Linked DNA regions of Homo sapiens: region 1 is linked to region 2. The links come from fine-mapping of genetic effects on gene expression. A gene starts in region 2. The other region holds a variant in brackets. All regions are shown on one strand. Distances are between the middles of the regions.

What was found. PIP is the estimated chance that this variant, and not a neighbour inherited with it, causes the effect.
Region 1: its variant is fine-mapped to the expression of PRXL2A in monocytes after interferon gamma (Fairfax 2014, PIP 0.93).

Annotation. Positions count from the first base shown.
Region 1 is chr10:80,444,536-80,449,907 of GRCh38, reverse strand. No RefSeq gene overlaps it. Among named protein-coding and RNA genes, the nearest start is that of TSPAN14, 7.1 kb to the left of the region's middle. RefSeq lists a silencer at 21-315. The variant G/C (reference allele first, on the strand shown) is at 2,140.
Region 2 is chr10:80,406,161-80,411,532 of GRCh38, reverse strand. It overlaps PRXL2A (peroxiredoxin like 2A), which reads right to left and starts at 2,982. Exons shown (of 6, transcript NM_032333.5): 1 at 2,890-2,982. RefSeq lists enhancers at 689-1,188, 2,035-2,628 and a silencer at 2,914-3,203.

The DNA of each region.
Region 1 (5,372 bases), 38 kb before region 2:
CCTGGACCTGAAGCTGCCACAGATAAAATTGTAAGTGGAAGAGCTTGCCCTTTGTCTTCCCCTGACTTCTATAGCCCTCTGTGTCGGTCCCCAGTGCTGCACTCCCACCCTGGGCTCCACTCTGCAGCCTCTGTGTGTGTTTACAGGGCAATGGGCAGGTCAGGGTGAGATTGAACAGAAGAGGGAGTTGGTGTCCAAGCTCTCCTAGTTCTCAACATGATCTTGAGCAAACCACTTTACATTCCTGAGCCCTGCTGTTCTTATCTGTAAAGTCAAGGTAATACTAAAACCCACCTCACAAGCTTGTAATAAAAATCCAAAGAGATAAAGTTTGTAAAACTTCGAAAAATACTGGGTAAGCTGTAAAGAACTCTGTTACCCAGGAAAGATGTCTTATTAGGACCAGACTACCAAGGATTAGTCGGGACATTTTGGCTGGAAATGAGAACCCCACTCAGACTAGCTTAGGTCATCAAAGGGGAGATACTGGAAGGAGCCTCAGATTGCTCACAGAATTGAAAGAAGAACTTGAAACCAGAGTGACACAAAACGGGGCTGATCCTGACAACGTCCCAGAACGGGGGCCCTACCCTCTGTTTCTCCTAGTTCTCAGAGTTTGCCATGTCAGGTATGTGACTGAGTAAGTCTACACTCTTAAGTCGGTATGAACAAATCTCAAGAAAGGATCGACCGGGCATAGTGGCTCATGCCTGTAATCCCAGCACTTTGGGAGGCCAAGGCGGGCGGATCACTTGAGGTCAGGAGTTTCGGACCAGCCTGGCCAACGTGGTGAAACCTCGTCTGTACTAAAAGTAGGAAAATTAGCTGGGTGTGGTGGCGCATGCCTGTAGTTCCAGCTACTCAGGAGGCAGAGGTGAGAGAATCGTGCTTGAACAGGGGAGATGGAGGTTGCAGTGAGCTGAGATTGTGCCATTGCACTCCAGCCTGGGCGACAGAGGAAGACTCCATCTCAAAAAAAAAAAGAAAAAAGAAAAGAAAAGGATCCTAATTGGGTCAGCTCTGGTCACATATTCACTCCTGGACCCATTCTTACAGCAACATGGAGTGGCTTGAGAGAGCCAAACAAACTCTGACACAACCAGCGTGATGAGGGAGATGAGATATCGTAATTGGACTAGGTCTGGGTCACATGCCCATGCCTATGATCAGTAGGGCAAGGCCTATGCAGAAGAAGGGGTAGTGGTGTGTGCAGGGCCAACATCATCATTTTTAGCAGTCTTCTATACCAAGTATTCTTTAGGCCCTGGGCAGGTTTTAGGCAGAATGGTGACATTGTTATATCTGTACTTTAGAAAGATCCCTAAGGCTGGAGTGGGAAGGGAAGGTGGGAGGGAGCAAGATTGGAATAAAAAATGGTTAGAAAAGAAATGATGAGGAAATAGAAAGAGGTGGACAGAATCAAGATATATTTAGGAGCTGGAACTGACAAGTGACTAATTGCATGGGAGAATGAGGAATAAAGAGACATCATATTCTGGCTGCGTGGGCAGTGGCGCTATTCACTGAGAAGGAACACAAGAGACCCTGTGTGGATGTATAATATGTTTGGTGAGAGGTGATGCCTTAGACCTCTTCCATTTGAAGTGTTCCTGGGTAGGGTGGAGAGGTGCAATTTGCTGTATGGAGTTAAGAGAGACAGCTAAACAGAAGTTATCAGTTTGGAAGTTGTATCCATTTGAAATTGTGTTTAGCTTTTCTAACAATAACCCAAGGCCAGGTGCGGTGGCTCACATCTGTAATCCCAACACTTTGAAAGGCTGAGGCAGGAGGATCACTCGAGCCCAGGAGTTTGAGACTAATCTGTGCAACATAGTAAGACCCCATCTCTTTAGGAAAAAAAAAAAAAAAAGAAAACAGAGAGAGAGGAGAAAGAGAAAGAGGGAAAGGAGGGAAAAGAGGGAGGGAGGAGGGAAGGAAGGAAAGGATGGAGGGAGGGAGGGGAGAGAAAATAGCAACACAACTACATTGCCTTAACTACATTCAGCTTTCTCGCTGTAGTTGTAGGAAAAAATTCTGACACAACAAGAAGTCTAAAGGTAAGCAGAGCAAGGCTGATCAGCAGCCCCACAACGTCATCAGGTCCCAGCTCCTCTCTGTTGGTGTGTCTGGCTCTCCTTA[G/C]GGGACAGAGTTGGCTTGTGGTCATACAATGGCTGCCCCAGCTCCAGCTTCCCACCCACATTCCAGACAGAAGAAAGAGCAAAAAGAATGAAGGGGCAACACCTAAAACTTACCCAGAAATCCCCAGACTACTGCTTATGCCTCACTCGCCGAGTGCAGTCACATGACAAACCCTAACTCCAAAGGAGGTTGGGAAATGTTTAAAAAATTAACTCCTGTTTTAAAGAAAGAAGGGAGAATCGATATTGAGGAAGCAGTGTGTGATAATTGAAATCATCAGAGTAGAGGAGATTATTTTGGGACTGGGAGATGAGAAAAGGACCAAGGACAGAATCTTTGGAAAACGAGAGAGCAGAGGGACCAAAGAGACTGAGGAAGACTGTCCAGTGAGGTAGGAGAAAAGCCAAGAGGGTGGAATGGATGGAAGTCCAGGGGCAACAAGTGTTTCAAGAAGAGGGGAGTGGTCCAGTTTCCAGGGCTGCAGAGGGCCAGTGAAACAAGGCTGAAGAGCAACCATGGGGTTAATAGCTTCAGAGAACTGTTTCAGTGGAGAATTGGGTCAAAGACAGTTAACAGTGGGCTGAACAGCAATTGGAAAATGAGAGAGAGGTTGTTAACTGGAAGATGATGAGGATAAGCAGTTGCAGGAGGGTGTTTGTTTAAGAAAGGAGAGACTTGGGCCAGGCACGATGGCTCATGCTTGTAATACCAGCACTTTGGGAGGCCCAGGTGGGAGAATCGCTTCAGCCCAGGAGTTCCAGGTGAGCCTGGGCAACATAGTGAAACCCTGTTTCTATTAAAAGAAAATAACAAGAAAAACAAAGGAGAGACTCAAATATGTTTAAATGATGAAGGGAGAAGGCAAGAGAAGAGGGGAGATAAGAGAGTCTGAAGGAAGAGAGAAAACGCTTGCTGGAGAAGGTGGGAAGGATTGGTGTTCAGAACAAGAGGAGAGCCCCAAACTGGAGGACAGCAGGACCTTCATAGAGACAGGAGGCAGGAAGACAAGCTGGGTGAGGATGCAGATGTTTGTGGGTTCGGTGGGGCTTCCTAAGGGAAGGGGTCCACTTTCTCTGGAAGTAGAATGGGCACCTGCTGAAGGTTAAGTGGGTGTTGGGTGGGATCCAAGGATTTCAGAGAAACCTAGGAGAGAACGAGAGACACCTCTGAGCAGGGGCAAGCAGGAATGTTTGGGGAAGGGTTGCAAGCCCAGCTGCAAATGGAGACCCAGAGTGAGAGTGACACACATCTCAGATTACATGACCTTTTTCATCAGTACTCAGCAGCTGGAGTATGTGCAAGTGCAGAGAGCACAGACAGCAGGATTGATCAAAATCTGGGGTTTGCCGGGAGAGCATGATAGAAAAACAATGGTGCAAAGGATTCCAGAAGGTTGGAAATAAAGCAGTTGAGGTGTTGTATCCTGAGGCTTGGCTACTAGGGGAGAGAAGTGACAGCTGGAGGGGCTAGTAGATAGGGGGAAAGAAGATGAGGCTGCGGCTGGAGGGCCCTCAGCATGTGAAGAAGGGAGATACGGTGACACAAGGCTGTGGTCAGACAGAGGTGTGTATCCATGGGACCAGGTGATTGAGATGGAAGAAACGGAGAAACAAATGGCCCTGAGGGTGAGGAGGTCAGGACCAAGAGGCTAGTGGGAAGATGGGTCACTCCATCAGTATATGGCAGGACTTGGAGTGCAGGCAATGGCAATGGGTTAGGCGCCAACATCTTTGGTAGAACTTTTACTTCAAGGTCAGTTTTGCACTGGTGTTGCCTTTCTTGAAGAAAGAGGTTAGGGAGCCTTGGGGAAAAGAGAACAGAAAGGAAATTTATTTCTTGGCCTGTCATTCTATACTTGGCCTATTTGTTCCAGAACAATCTATTTTAAGGAATCTGCAAACTTCTAGGAGGTTTCTACTCTTATTTGCATCTACAGCCTCAGCCATGGGACCTCTGCCTGCCAGTGGCGTCCCCTGCAAAGAATTAGGACTAAGATTTGTGATAGGAGCCCATGTGTGAGGATAAGACACAGTGGAACACCCTTTAATTATAGCATCTGAGACTGTCTAAGCAGATGGTGGTGACAAGGAGTCCTGTCATCTCTCTGCCCTCAGTTGTTCCATTTCATAAACTGAAGGTGGCAGAGAAAGAAAGGTTGTTCAACAGGTGACATCCCACGGCCCTTTCAGCCCTGTGCATCAACCACACTGTAATGACTCCACATGGGAGAAGAAAGTTTTGCCAAAGAAGAAAACCCCAGATGTGGCCAAATAAGACATCAAGGGAGGGAGCAGATCCTAGATGTTAAGAGCAAGTATAATACCAGGAATCGGACTGCACGGGCTAAGTCCCAACTCTGCCCCTGAAAGCTAGGTCCACTCAGGCCGGAGAGCTGCTCATGTCTACCCAGGGAACTATGGGATCTGTGCAGATGTCAAAGCCACTTGACAGCACAGAGTGTTACTTCTGGAATAATGTCATGCAAACTGACCTTCACAAAGCTCTGACTTAGTAACATAAATGTGGAAAGGGGGCTCAGAGGGAATCACCTAGCTGATAAGTGGTAGAAGCAGGACTGTCAGCTTTATGACCACACCTGAGTCCCCAGTCTGTCTCAATCTCACACCTAGAGATTTGAGGGTCGGCTAAGGCCCTGGGACCTCTAGGCGCAGACACTGCTAGGAGAGCCACTGAAAGTTCCCCCTACCACTACAAAGTAGGGGAGAGAGGCACACCTAGACTCATCTGAGACAGAGCAGAAAACAGATGGATGTTGCAAACATCACAGGTACCTCTCCCTGTCCCTGTCACACAGCTTTGGGGAGTTTTAGTTGGTTCCATGGAGAATCTGGTAGTCCCCGGGGAGAGCTGCGCAGCAGTTGATGCCGCGTGCATACACTGCCACCTAGAGGCAGTCTGAGGAAACTCCAAGTTTATTAAACCACGGGTGTGTGTGTGTGTGTGCGTGTGTGTCAGTCTGTCTTTCTGTGTGTTGGGGGAGGAAGGGAGGGCTTTTCAGTCCTTGTCTGGCACTGCTGATTCTCTCTTTCCTGGAGCCCTTGGCTCTCTTCCTCTACCCACTCGGGACCACGTGTCCTGCACGCAGCTCCTCCTCAGTCTCTTTGCAGATCCTGCTCCCCATTTCCTACAAATGCTACTTTTCCCAGATGCTGGGAACATCTAACACCATTTTCTTCCCCCTCTCATCTCCACAGGCTCTCTGCCCTCTGTGC
Region 2 (5,372 bases):
CATGACTGTTTATCCTGCATCAGACACGCTAGGTCCTGGGCAGCCAGCCAAGGGCCAGTGGCCTCTAAGGCTGGAATAGCATGGCAGTCTGGGCTCAGGAAGTGGGGCCCTGCAGGTCTTGAAGCCTGTTCACTGGCCTCAGGCAAGCTAAGAGCAAGACTGCCCGTAAACAGGGCCTGGGAAATCTGCTGCCTGGAGAGAACATCATCAGCCTCTCCCAAGCCCAATCCTTGGTAAGCAGCTTATAATCTGAAGCCAAATGTCTTAAGGGTCTCATTGCCTAGTCTCCGCTGAGAAGCCATTCTGCACCTCTCTTCCCCACAATAACAAGACTCTGTCCATCCTTGTCTAGCATACTGATGATGCAGGCACACAGAGCCTTATGAGCAACAGATGCCCTTCCACCCACCCTTGTCTTCATATACCACAAAATCAGTCACTTGCAATGAGCTCTCACCTACCTGCCTCAGTCTCCAACTCTCAGCCCTGCTCCTTGGGGTGTGTATCTGCCTGGTTCTGGCCCAGTCCTACTCTCAAATGCCAGATTCAGAAACCTCTGAATAGATGCTGAAAGCAGCACCAGCCCCCACATTCCTCACTCTTGGGCGTATCTCAGGGTTTCCCAGTAGCTGATTATGTCCTCTTGTTTCCTCAAGCTGTAGGGCCCCCCACCCCTCAAAGAGCAAGCCATTCTAATCTCACTTGCACAGCCTCCTGTCTGGGCTCAGAACTCCGGCTTCATCAAGTTATATGGGTGTGGATAGGAAGGCAAGGCAATACCACAGAAGACACTGGGCTAAAAGCCAATAATCCTGGGTTTTCTCTCTTTGACTCTGAGAGTTATTTTATCCCTCTGAACCTCAGTGTCTTCTTAAAAACAAGGGCACTTTAAAGAGTTGTCATAAAGATTATATAAGAAGAGCAATTTTTAATGCGGTAACGCACTAGAAAACGGCAAAGCAGCATTATCTTTCTCTCTTTTGCAGGGCTCAGATTCACTCGTGCCCCTATAAAGACAGGATATCTGAAGCAGGACAGGCACAAAATAGTGAACTTCTGCAGCTGTGTCACTGCAGGCCTGCTTTCTGGTGAACGTTCTAGGTCTGGTGGGAACACTGGCTTGTCTCAGCCCCTCTGGCCTGCAGGCCCGCTCCATGCTATTCCTGTAGCAGCTAACACTGCCTCCTGCACTAGCAGTGCCAGAGAAGGCAAAGGACACTGCCCAGCTGTAATTTCCCTGTGCCAGAGGCCACTGAGCTCAAAGGTGAGGCTGGCTCTCTGCACAGAACCTCAGGATGGTTCTTGCCACACAAGCCACAGCAGAGAGACTTGGAGCTTCTGCTCAACATTTCACAAAGAAGCAAGAACCCAACTGGCAGGACAGCTGCCCTATTGCTTAGATAGGGACAGAGCCTGGGGCTTGAGCCCTAGAGTTCCAGTCCTATCCAAACTTTCTGAGCACCATTTAAATGACACGAGATGAGAAAATCATCAGAAATGTCTTTTGTACCCCTTCAGAAGTAATGCAGAAGGTCTCAACTAAATGACATGCTCTTATAAAAGACGGGGATATAGGAAAGGCCCACACCAAGAATAATATCTAACTTTAATTCTTGCAAGCTGTATAAACCTGGACAAGGAACTGTTTTGCATCAGTAAAATGGGAATGCTTCCTTAATTACCTTCTACAGAGTTGCAAGAATCAAAGGATTAAATGTATAGGAGGTGCCTTGTGAGGTACCTTACAAAAAGTGCAATAAATACGATGTATAATTCTTCATTTCTAGAGCAATGATTACCCTCAAAACGTTATTTGTACACAAAATGAAGAGTTTTCTGATGAATGAGTATGGTAACGAGTCGGGGTCTGCAGTGGAAATCCCAATCCTCATTCTCCAAAGCTGGGCCCGAGCAGGAGCATTCAAGACTATTCAAGCTGACTTTTTCACAATGCTTTTCAAAACAAATCTTGATTATTTTCTTTTTGAAAAACCACCTGCCAGGTTCAAAGGAAAATACATTAAAATAAAACAAACAAAAAAGCTGAGTTCTGGGTTGCTGGGCTGTGCAGACAGCATGATGTGGCAAGGAAAAGAGGCGCAGGAGCAGCTGGGAACCCCGGTCCGGCAGTGGACTCCCGGGTGTGCCTCCTTCCCACAGCCCTGGACCGGCTGGGCCTTGACTTCCCTTCCTTTGCCTCTAACCATCTCCACCTGCGCCTTCACCTCCCGCTCCAGCAACAACCCTGGGGGCAGATTGTTCATCTTTTCATTCCTAGACCTCAGCAGGGCTGTTAAGTTTACAACTGGGCTCTACCCAATTTAAAGTCAGGCGTTTGTGACTCTTGGGAAAGAGGGGGAACAGGTGCCTCCGAAACGCTGAACAACGCTAGAAACCGTGCCCTCTTAAAAGACACGACCCTAAGCGGGCACAGAGACGAGGACGAGGACTGCCAGGTCCGCACCTGGGGCTGGTCCAGCAGGGCGGCCCCCGGGCCCATGCTCCAGGGCAGGGCCCTCTCCTCTGTTCTTTGTCCCAACAATTCGCGAAGGTTGGCGCCACCGGCGTCACTCAAGGCTTGCGGGCGTGGACAGAGGGGGCCCTAGCCCGCCGCAGCAGCGCCGGGTCCCCGTCTCCGTTCTCCGACGTCTGGGCGCAGGGTTTTTCCATCGGCCGCCACGCAGGGTGGCGGAAGGGTCGTCGTCCTCGGAGGGAGCGCCAGCGCTGCGGCGGCTCCTAAGAAAGTTGGCGCGGGCCCGAGGGGCGCGCCTCACCAGCCCAGCACCCACCCTACCGGCCCTGCACTGCCTCAGTTTCCCCACCTACGCCGCGGCAGGCCCCGCCTACGGACATCACGTGCCTCGCGGAGCCCCGGCGCGCAGCACCTACCTCAAGTGCCTCCCTTCTGCCGGCCTTTTACCGCCCCGACGCCCGGGCGCTAAGGGGCCAAACCGCCCGGCCCGGAGGGTCCCAGGGGCGGGCCCCGCGCTTGCGCAGCCTCTAGCCTGTGCTGCATCGCGCGCTACCGCGCCACCGCCATGTGACCCGCCCCGCCCCCCGTGGGAGGAGCTCCGGGCCTGCCCCCGACTCGCCGACCTCCGGGCCGCGGTCTCCTAGCTCCGGTGGCGCTCGGGCGTGTGCCCCAGCGGTCCTTTTACGCACAGCGCTCGGTCGGTCCACTCCTCAAGTCCGCGAACCGAGGCCCCGACGCGTTCTTCAGGGCGCTGCCTAGGGCAAAAGAAGGCGCTGGACACCCCTAATGGAGCCTGGAAGCACCTGTCCTGCAGCCGAGGCTGGCCAACTTCCTTCCAATCTTCAGCCTGGTTTTGAATAGCTCTTTTGATAGGTTTTTTTTTTTTTTTTAACCTCCATGGGCAGGGGGAATCTAAAGGACCGACACATTCGATGAGCCCCTTCAAGCTGTATGTACAGATTCAGAATTTCCAACCTCAATCCTCCACCCACGTTCCCTTTCACTCCACAATGCCAGCTATGGGGCAGAGAACGGTGAGCCGCAGCCTTGCGGACTCCGGGCGACGCTGAGGCGGGTGTGTCACACACCGCTCATCCACTTACTCCTCCTGTTGGAAGTGCCCACTCTTTCATGAAAGTAGGAGGTTGTGTCCGGCGCGCTGGCTCACGCCTGTAATCTCAGGGCTTTGGGAGGATCGCTTGAGCCCAGGAGTTCAAGACCAGTCTGGGCACCATAGTAAGACTCCATCTCTACGTAAAAAACAAAAACTAGCCAGGCATAGTGGCGCGTGCCTGTATTTCCAGCTACTCTGGAGCTGAGGTGGGAGGATCGCTTGAACCCGGGAGGCGGAGGTTGCAGTGAGCCCAGATCGCGCCACTGCACTCCAGCCTGTCTTTAAAAAACAAAAAAAAGACCCTGTCTTAACAACAAAAAACAAAAAGTAGGAGGTTGGACTTTCAGAGACAGCAGAGCTGACTCACGATACATATTAGTGGTTGGCCGGGCTCGGTGTCTCATGCCTGTAATCCCAACACTTTGGGAAGCCAAGGCGGGCAGATCACTTGAGGGCAGGAGTTCGAGACCAGCCTGACCAACATGGCAAAACCTCGTCTCTACTAAAAATACAAAAATTAGCCGGGTGTGGTGGCGCGCACCCGTAGTCCCAGCTACTCAAGAGGCTGAGGCAGGAGAATAGCTTGAACCCCGGAGGTGGAGGTTGCAGTGAGCCGAGATGGTGCCACTACACTCCAGCCTGGGTGACAGAGTGAGATTCCGTCTCAAAAAAAAAAAAAAAAGACATATCGGTGACACAGTGCAAAGACCAGTCACAGGGCAGCATAAGGTGAAGTGGCAAAGCAGGCCGATGTCCGCCCGTCAAAGGTGGTCATTTGCCTGCAACACCTTCCCCCCTTCATCTGGGAGCTGCCCACAGGTGTACAAAGTCCAAAGGCTTCCGTGATTCACCTCCCTGACTTCCCACTCAGACTCCATGTTCCATGTAAACTTACAGCAACACTTGGGGAGCTTGATCTATTCAAGGGGGTCTCTCCTCAACCAAACTGTGAATTCCTCCACTTCACCTCTGGGACCCTAGAGCCTGGCCCAGGGACAGCGTGGAAATAAACTTAGAAAACGTGAGAGGTGGATCTAAGTTGTGGGGTAAGGGAGATCAGCCTGAGTGCCCATGCAGTTTTCCTGCAGGAGTTAGGCATATGATTTGAAGGCCAGAAAATATTTCGTATACTTTGGTGCAATGCGGGTGTAGTTTTATATATATATATATATATATATATATATATATGATATATAAGATATATATAAGATATATATGAGATATATAAGATATATATGATATATGTATAAGATATGTATGATACATATATCTCTCTCCAGAGGACCTTTCTTTCTTCTCCCTTGTTTCTCCTTACCTTGTGAAGAGGAGCGGGAGAAGGGTCAATCTTTCCATCCCAAAATAGGAAGTTCAAAGGTGAGGAGGGTTTGCAGGGAAGGCCACTTAGAACAAAACAGGAAGTCATTTCCTTGGGAAATGAGTTCTTGGAGACTGACCATTAATGACAGAGCCATTCAGGGGTTGAGGATAGCAGAATTCTGGGGTGGAAGGTCCCCTGAGGCTTTAACTGTGATGTAATTACTAATCACGTGCAAAAGTCATGCTTATATTTACACTTCGGTAACATCCTGAAGATCTGGACTTCAAAAACCAGGCTACATCTGATAGCTAATTAATATGCTCCTCACATGCCCACGTTTCTTTTTGTACAAGAAAGCACAGGCTGAACTCATTAAAAAACAGTCATTAGACCAGAAAAATAAGTTACAGGCAAGCAGGCGCAGGAAAACTTATTTACAAAGCTCAAGGACTAAAACCAAAAACCAA